Homo sapiens: one gene and its partner. The protein of the gene in region 1 interacts with the protein of each later gene in a biochemical or structural test. Each region holds a gene or a part of one and is shown on either strand. Other genes may lie near its edges.

Region 1 (3,652 bases):
AGCATTGCTAACACTTAGCTGCACGATCTCATTTCACTCTCACAATCCCTGAGCTAGATTCTGCATGAAACCACCTTGCAGACAAGGAATCAGATGTTTAGTAACTCTCCCATGGTCACTCTGAGGAGCTGGGATTTGAACCTTCTCTGTCAGACTTCAGAGCCTAAGGGCTTTACCAATACTGCCCTGCTCCTCGTGTCTTTGGGTGAATGAATTTTCCATGCAGTTCAAGAGGTGTTTTCTCAGTGCCTGGCCTGGGCCTAGTACTGTGCCCAGGAGTTGGGGAGGCAGAATGGGCTGGCGCCATGGTGAGAAAGAAAAAACATTGTGTTAGCTGTCCTGATTCAGGCTCAGGGTCTGACACTTTTTAGTTCTGTGACCCTGGGCAAAGCCACTTAACCTTTCAGGCCTTAGTCACCTCATCTTTGAATTGGGATATTCCTGTGTTTGTCAGAGGTTGCGCAGATTTGATGAAATAATGCATGTTTGTTTGATAGATGGGGTATCACTCTGTCACCCATGCTGGAGTGCAGTGGCTTGATCATGGCTCACTGCAGCCTTAAACTCCTTGGCTCAAGTGATCCTCCTGCTTCAGCCTCCTCAGTAGCTGGGACTCAGGCGTGCACCACCATGCCCAGCTAATTTTTATTTTATTTTTTATTTTTTTGTAGACATGGGCAATGGAGGTGGTGGGTGGGTGGTGTCTCACTATGTTGTCCAGGCTGGTCTCAAACTCCTGGCCTCAAGCAATCCTCCCATGTGGCCTCCAAAAGTACTGGGATTACAGGTGTGAGCCATTGAGCCCAACCTGATGAAATAATTTTTATGAAAGTGCTTTTAAAACTGAAGTGCTACAGAAATATTGGCAATCATCTCTTAGGCTGTTCTTACAGATTCTCTAGACTTTTGCATGTGTGTGTTTTAATAAAAAATGATGGCTGTATGGGGGTCCCAGTGGATTAAGCCACTGGTTTGCAACTCTGGTTACCTGTTAGAATCATCTGGGAAGTTTTTAAAACCAAGATGCCTGGTCCCTATCTCCCTACAGGTTTTTGATTCAATCGTTCTTGGACTGGGACAGGGCAGTTTATGTTTTAAAAGCTCCTCAGGTGATTCTAATTTGCAGCTAAGGGTTCCAAGCAATGGATTAAAGAAGAAAGCAGATACATAATGGTTTTATGAAACAGTTTGCTATACCTTAAAATCCAAAGCATTTTCCCCACACATCACTACTTGGTGGTGGAGAATAAACGGCGGCCGGTGGAGAGTTCTGGACTTACCAGAACAAAAGAACTCCAGGACAGGTCCCATGGGGAAGCTGCTGCTTCTCAGCTTCTTCAAGGTCAGGTGACAGATGCTGGGTGATGATCCGGGTGCATACTCCAGGGTGCTAGAGTGGGACAGGAGTATGCTTTTAGGTGGGCAACAGAGAATCTCATGGCACGGCTATAGTTAGTGGGCTCTTTGAGGTTAGAAGCAGTCTTGAATTTCATCTTTTAAATCCAGGACTCACCTACTGTATTAGTGCATTCTTACACTGCTGTAAAGATACTGCCTGAGACTGGATAATTTATAAATGAAGGAGGTTTAATTGACTCACAGTTCCGTACGGCTGGGGTGGCCTCAGGAAACTTACAATCATAGTGGAAGAGGAATCAGGCATTTTCTTCACAAGGCGGCAGGAGGGAGTGTGAGTGTGTGAAGGAGGAGCTGTCAAACACTCATAAAACCATCAGATCTCATGAGAACTCACTCACTATCATGACAGCATGGGGGAAACCACCCCCGTGATCCAATCACCTCCCTCCCTCCACAGGTGGGGATTACAATCGGCAATGACATTTGGATGGGGACACAGAACCAAACCATATTGTTCTGCCCCTCCATCTGCAAGCTGAAGAGCAGGGAAGCCAATAGTGGCTCAGTCCGAGTCCCAAAACCTCAAAAGTTGGGAAGCCGACAGTGTAGCCTCCAGTCTGTGGCTGAAGGCCTGAGAAACCCTGGCAAAACACTGGTGTAAGTCCAAGAGTCCAAAAGCCAAAGAACTTGAGTCTGATGTTCGAGGGCAGGAAGCATCCAGCACAGGAGAAAGATGAAGGCTGGAAGACTCAGCAAGTCTGCTCATTCCACCTTTTTCCACCTGCTTTTTCTAGCCTTGCTGGTAGCTGATTGGATGGTGCCTACCCAGATTGAGGGTTGGGTCTGCCTCTCCAAGTCCATTGACTCAAATGTTAATCTTTTCTGGCAACACCTTCACAGACACACCCAGAAACAATACTTTGCATCCTTTGAACCGATCAAGTTGACAATATTAACCGTCACACCTAAAGTAGTGGCTCATTTGTTATGTCTTTGCTTAATAAATAAATAATAAATATTTGTCCTAGGCATTGTGGGAGATATTTCCCCATCTATTATCTTTTTTTAACTCCAATTTTTAATTTTATTTGAATAAGAGACATGGTCTCACTGTCACACAGGCTGGAGTGCAGGAGTGCAGTGGCGCAATCATAGCTCACTGCAGCCTCGAACCCCTGGGCTCAAGCAATCCTCCTGCCTCAGTCTCCCAAAGTGCTGGGATTACAGGCATGAGCCACTTCACCTGGCCCCACGTGTTATCTAATTTAAAGTTTGCAACACTCCTGAAATGTAGATAATGAAATACAGAGGCGTAGAGAGATGAAATAACTTGTTCATCTTAGTTACACAACTGAGTCTGTGTTCAGAGCTGGGATTTGAACCGATGTGTGCCTAGAAAGCCCATACCTTTCTAGTCAATTGCCTAACAACTAGAAATGAGATTTGAATACAGAGGAAGTCCAGAGCCCCAAATCTCTTCGTGACAAGCCTGCCAGTTCTCCTCGGCATCATTCTAGGCTTTAAAATCTGTAACTCAGTGGTTTTAGACAATGATGATAAGATCTCGAGAGATGATAATTGTAGAAACATGCTATTTCTTTGACCCCGTTTCCTCCCAGCCCCATTATCTTTTATCTATGTGCTGAAATTTCTCTCCTTTGGTGTTTCAGGATAGGGTTTCACCTTGATTTCCTAATTTAGTTTAGTGTTAGTTTATTCTGGCTAAACTTTTAGTTCCTTTTGGGCAGTATGGCCTTAACAGATTCTGACATTCTAAGTCTTGAGAAATTAATGTAGGCCGGGTGCGATAGCACACACCTGGAATCTCAGCACTTTGAGAAGCTGAGGCGGGCAAATTGAGCTCAGGAGTTCGAGACCAGCTGGGGCAACATGACAAAACCCCATTTCAATAAAAAATACAAAAACTAGCCCAACATGGTGGGCATATGCGCTTGCAGTCCCAGCTCCTCCAGGGGCTGAGGCAGGAGGGTTGCTTGAGCCCTGGAGGTCGAGGCTGCAGTGAGCTGTATTTGTATCCCTGCATTCCAGCCTGGGTGACAAAGTGAGACCCTGTCTCAGGAGAAAAAAAAAAAAAGAAATTAATGTAGCTTCAACAGTAAATACAAGTCATGGACTGGCTACTGCCTAAGCAGTTCCTAAAGGCCTGGTGTGTGCAGACACCCAGCTAGGCACTGGGGGTGTAGTGGTGAACGGCACAGACATGGTCCTTAGCCTTGAGGAACTTAAGGAACTTCCAGCCTAGTTGGGAGAGATGAAAAAGATAAAATATTTT
Region 2 (3,652 bases), on another chromosome or scaffold:
AAGTACTACCATCCTATCTCCTGAGGAAAAAAAGACTTTCTATGCTGGTGTATATAGGAGCATTTGATTTATTGCTGCCCATAAGGATCTCCTGGGGAGCTTTTTAAAAACATCAACCTGAACCCCACCACAAAGATTCAGTAGGTCTTGGCAGGGCCCTGGAATGTGTATTGTACAAAAGCACCTCAGATGATCTTGATGGTTACCTCTGGTTAAGAAGCACTGCTCTCTGAGAACCCTGTAAAGGGAAGGCAATTCCTTCCATCACACTGGCCTACAGAAGTCATGAGACAGAGGTCCCTCTTATGGTCACCTTGAGATCAGGTGACCAGAGATTGCTTGGACACCCCCTACAACCCACCTCCCCCCACCACATAAACATTTTTACTTCTGTCTTCACCTTTGAAGCACTAATTTTTACCAGTCATGAAACAGACCCTTAAATATCCGTCTTTGAAATTCATTTCAGATGGAGTGTGATGATTCGTGAGACTCCCAGACAAACCCCGCTGCTAAAAGGACAGGTTGAAATGGATGTACCACGATTTGAGGTAACTACTGTTCAGCTGTAATTCAGACCAATATCTTTATTACTCAGTGAAATAATTGGCAAAACCCAGAGAGAAGCTTTTGCATTGTGCATGGATGAGGATGAGATCATTGAGAGTTGGTGACATGTCAGTCAGCAGCTATTTACCAAGAACTATGTTAAGCACTGGGGATATAATTCATTCACTCATTTACTTATTCATTCAAAATATTTATGGAGTAACTACTTTATGTGAGATATTATTCTAGGAGATGTTCTTATATGCTACTGGGTAAAGAAGAATGACATAGTCTACTTGAATAGATGGAAAAATAAATTGTTTTAATCAAGTAGTATGAGTGTTAGTATATAAGGAAGTAGAGGGGGTTGGGAACACATAGCAGGAAGATCTATCTCAGTCTGGGGAAATCAGGGAAAGCCGCTCAGAAGGAGTGCCATTTCACAAGATACTTGAGATCCAGAGGGAATTAACCAGGAGAATAAGAAAGGGGAGGGCTGTTCCACACAGATGGAACAGCGTGTATTGTTCCAAAGGCAAGGGAGAGCATGGAATATTCACGAAACTGAAGTACATTCATAATGGCTGAGGCGTAGGGGCCAGGAAGGGGGCATTCAGGGAGAGTGACTAAAGATGAGGCTAGAGAAGTAATCAGGGGCCAGGCCAGAAAGGGCCTGATAAACCACAGTAGGAAGTTTGGATTTCATCCTAAGAGCAATAAGAATTACAGAAGATTTTTTTCTTATCTTATTATGAAAATTTCTACATTGATGAAAGTTAAAATGGTAGCTCTACTACTAACATTTTCCTATGCGTGCTTTATCACATATCCAGTCATCTATCCAGTCTGCTATCTAAGAGAAGGGGTTTAAGTAGAGGAGTGCCATGGTATGTGGAGAAACAATTGAAGGAATAAAAGACTAGAGGCAAAGAGAAAAGCTAGGAGATGTTGTAATTGTCTAGGCAAGAGGTGATGGTGATTTGGACTGGTGAAGTGGTAGCAGGGATGAGTAGCAGTGGATACATTTGAGACATACTCAAAAAATAGAATTATCAAGTCTTGGTAGATGTTTGAATGTCAAGGGTGATAGAGAGGAAGGAGTAGAAGTTGTAATTAAGAGCACAGACTCAAGAGCCAGACTACCTGGAATTGAATCCTGGCTCTACAATTTATCATCTTTCCCTTCTCTGGGCTCAGCTTTCTCTTCTGTGAAATGGAGATAATAACAGTCTTTATCTCATAGGGTTGTTATGAGGATTATATGAAAAAATATACATGTAGCTTAGAACAGAGCCTGGCACATAGTCAGTACTATATAAGTGGGTGCTGTTATTATTGGTAGTAATATTATTAAAGAAGTTACATTCTGGAATTGGAAAGATGTAGATTCGAATCCAGCTTTATTCCTTACTAGCTATGTAATATGAGATTGTTTGTTCATTTGAAACATGAAAGAAATAGTACCTCCTTCATATGAGGTTTTGATTATTAAGAGAAAATGAAATACATCTAAATTTTTAGAATACGCATAGATCTAAGATCATCTCTGTTGACCTTCAACAAGAATTCTTTGATCATTATCATTTCCAGAGAGGCAGTTGAGTTGCGGGTAGAGTCAGTAAGAAACAATGAGGCTGCAGGGGATGAGGATGGGCAGCACACTGTGTTATTGTACTAAGATTCCAGGGCTAAGAACTCCTTTTGCCCCTAGGCTGCTGCCATCCAACACTTAGAATCTGCAGCCACCGAGTTGAACAAAATCCTGAAGGCCAAGTACCCCACAGAGATGATCATCGCAACCAGGTCAGTCTTCCTTTGGCTCTCATCCTTTGGGGCTGTTCCCAGGTCAGACATGGGGCTCATTTTGATAGCTGAGGGTGTTGAGGCCAAGGAAAATACATGTTTATGTTCCCAAATCAGATTTCTCCCAACTCAAACCCCCTGAATGGAAAGTTTAGGAAAGAAAGATGACATTGAGGTGAAGTCGTCTGCTGCTCCAAAAAGTCAAAATTGCAAGCCAGAGATTTGGGAAGAGAATTATAGTAGGGAAACACAACATTATAGACCATTTAGGAGCATAGCATAGCTCCCTATAGTATAGACACCTTGCTTTCCGTCTTTGACATTAAGAAAGGTCTCTGCAATATCTGCCTATAGCTGCTTTCTCATAACCTGAGGAACACATTCCCCCTTCTAAATATGTGGGTCATTTGTTTCTTCTGGGACTTCTTAGGGGGCTCCTGCCCAGTCGACTACACTCTCCTTTGAGAAAAACTTCCCACAGGGAGAGTCCTCCCAATATAATTGTTTGTACTAAATTAGCTGGGCCCTTGAAACATAGCTGATTGAACCTAGGTGAAAACCTGACCCAAGTTGGACCAAGTGAATTCTCTTTTCTGGAAATTCAGAATTAGTACTAAGAAATGCTGGTCAAGCTCTATTAGGTTCTTGACTTGGGAAGTGGTGTGACACTGAACTAAAGTGGGGATGGAACATATTTCACCATATGCACAGGAAAAAAAAAGCAGAGAGAAAAAGGCTGGGAGCAGAGGGTGAGAGAAAGAGGACAGATCAGGAAAGAGAGAGAGGAGGAGGATGGGGACTGATGACATAAGAGAGAAGGGCTCTGGGCCTCATGGTTCATGTAACATTGTGCCATCTATTTTATCTTTCCAGATTCTTGTGTTCAGCTGTGGAAGATTTTGTGGTTGATATTGTAAAGGCCTGGGGTCAGATAAAACAGAACAACACTGCAATAGTGTCTGTGATTTTGAAAGTAAGTTCCCATTCCTTTTGTCTTATACTCTTTGTGGAGCAGCCAGGGGCCCTTTTTAATAAAAAGCAAACATGCCTCTCACTGGGAATGGTAAAAGAAAGGAAAGGAGGGGCAGCTGTTAAGCCTCCCTGATGAGGAAGGTCTAACCTCATTGAACTTCCATCTTTTGCTAAATGAAGGATGGCGCTCTGCATGCATACACACATACCATGTACATGCCAAGCATCTGCCCACAACTAGACACAAGTGTACATCAAGCAGGTATGTGCATGGTTGTACACCAGAACATGCTTACAAGTATGTACATACGAATACACACTACAAATA

What was found.
Region 2: the proteins of PDZD9 (region 1) and DGKK interact in a test that uses a peptide from one of them, tested with the Homo sapiens proteins (one large-scale study listed by IntAct).

Annotation. Positions count from the first base shown.
Region 1 is NC_000016.10:21,991,038-21,994,689, reverse strand, and holds part of PDZD9 (PDZ domain-containing protein 9), read left to right. Parts: intron 1-3,652.
Region 2 is NC_000023.11:50,387,227-50,390,878, reverse strand, and holds part of DGKK (diacylglycerol kinase kappa), read left to right. Parts: intron 1-469; coding exon 470-551; intron 552-2,260; coding exon 2,261-2,352; intron 2,353-3,225; coding exon 3,226-3,325; intron 3,326-3,652. UniProt on the Homo sapiens protein: Diacylglycerol kinase that converts diacylglycerol/DAG into phosphatidic acid/phosphatidate/PA and regulates the respective levels of these two bioactive lipids.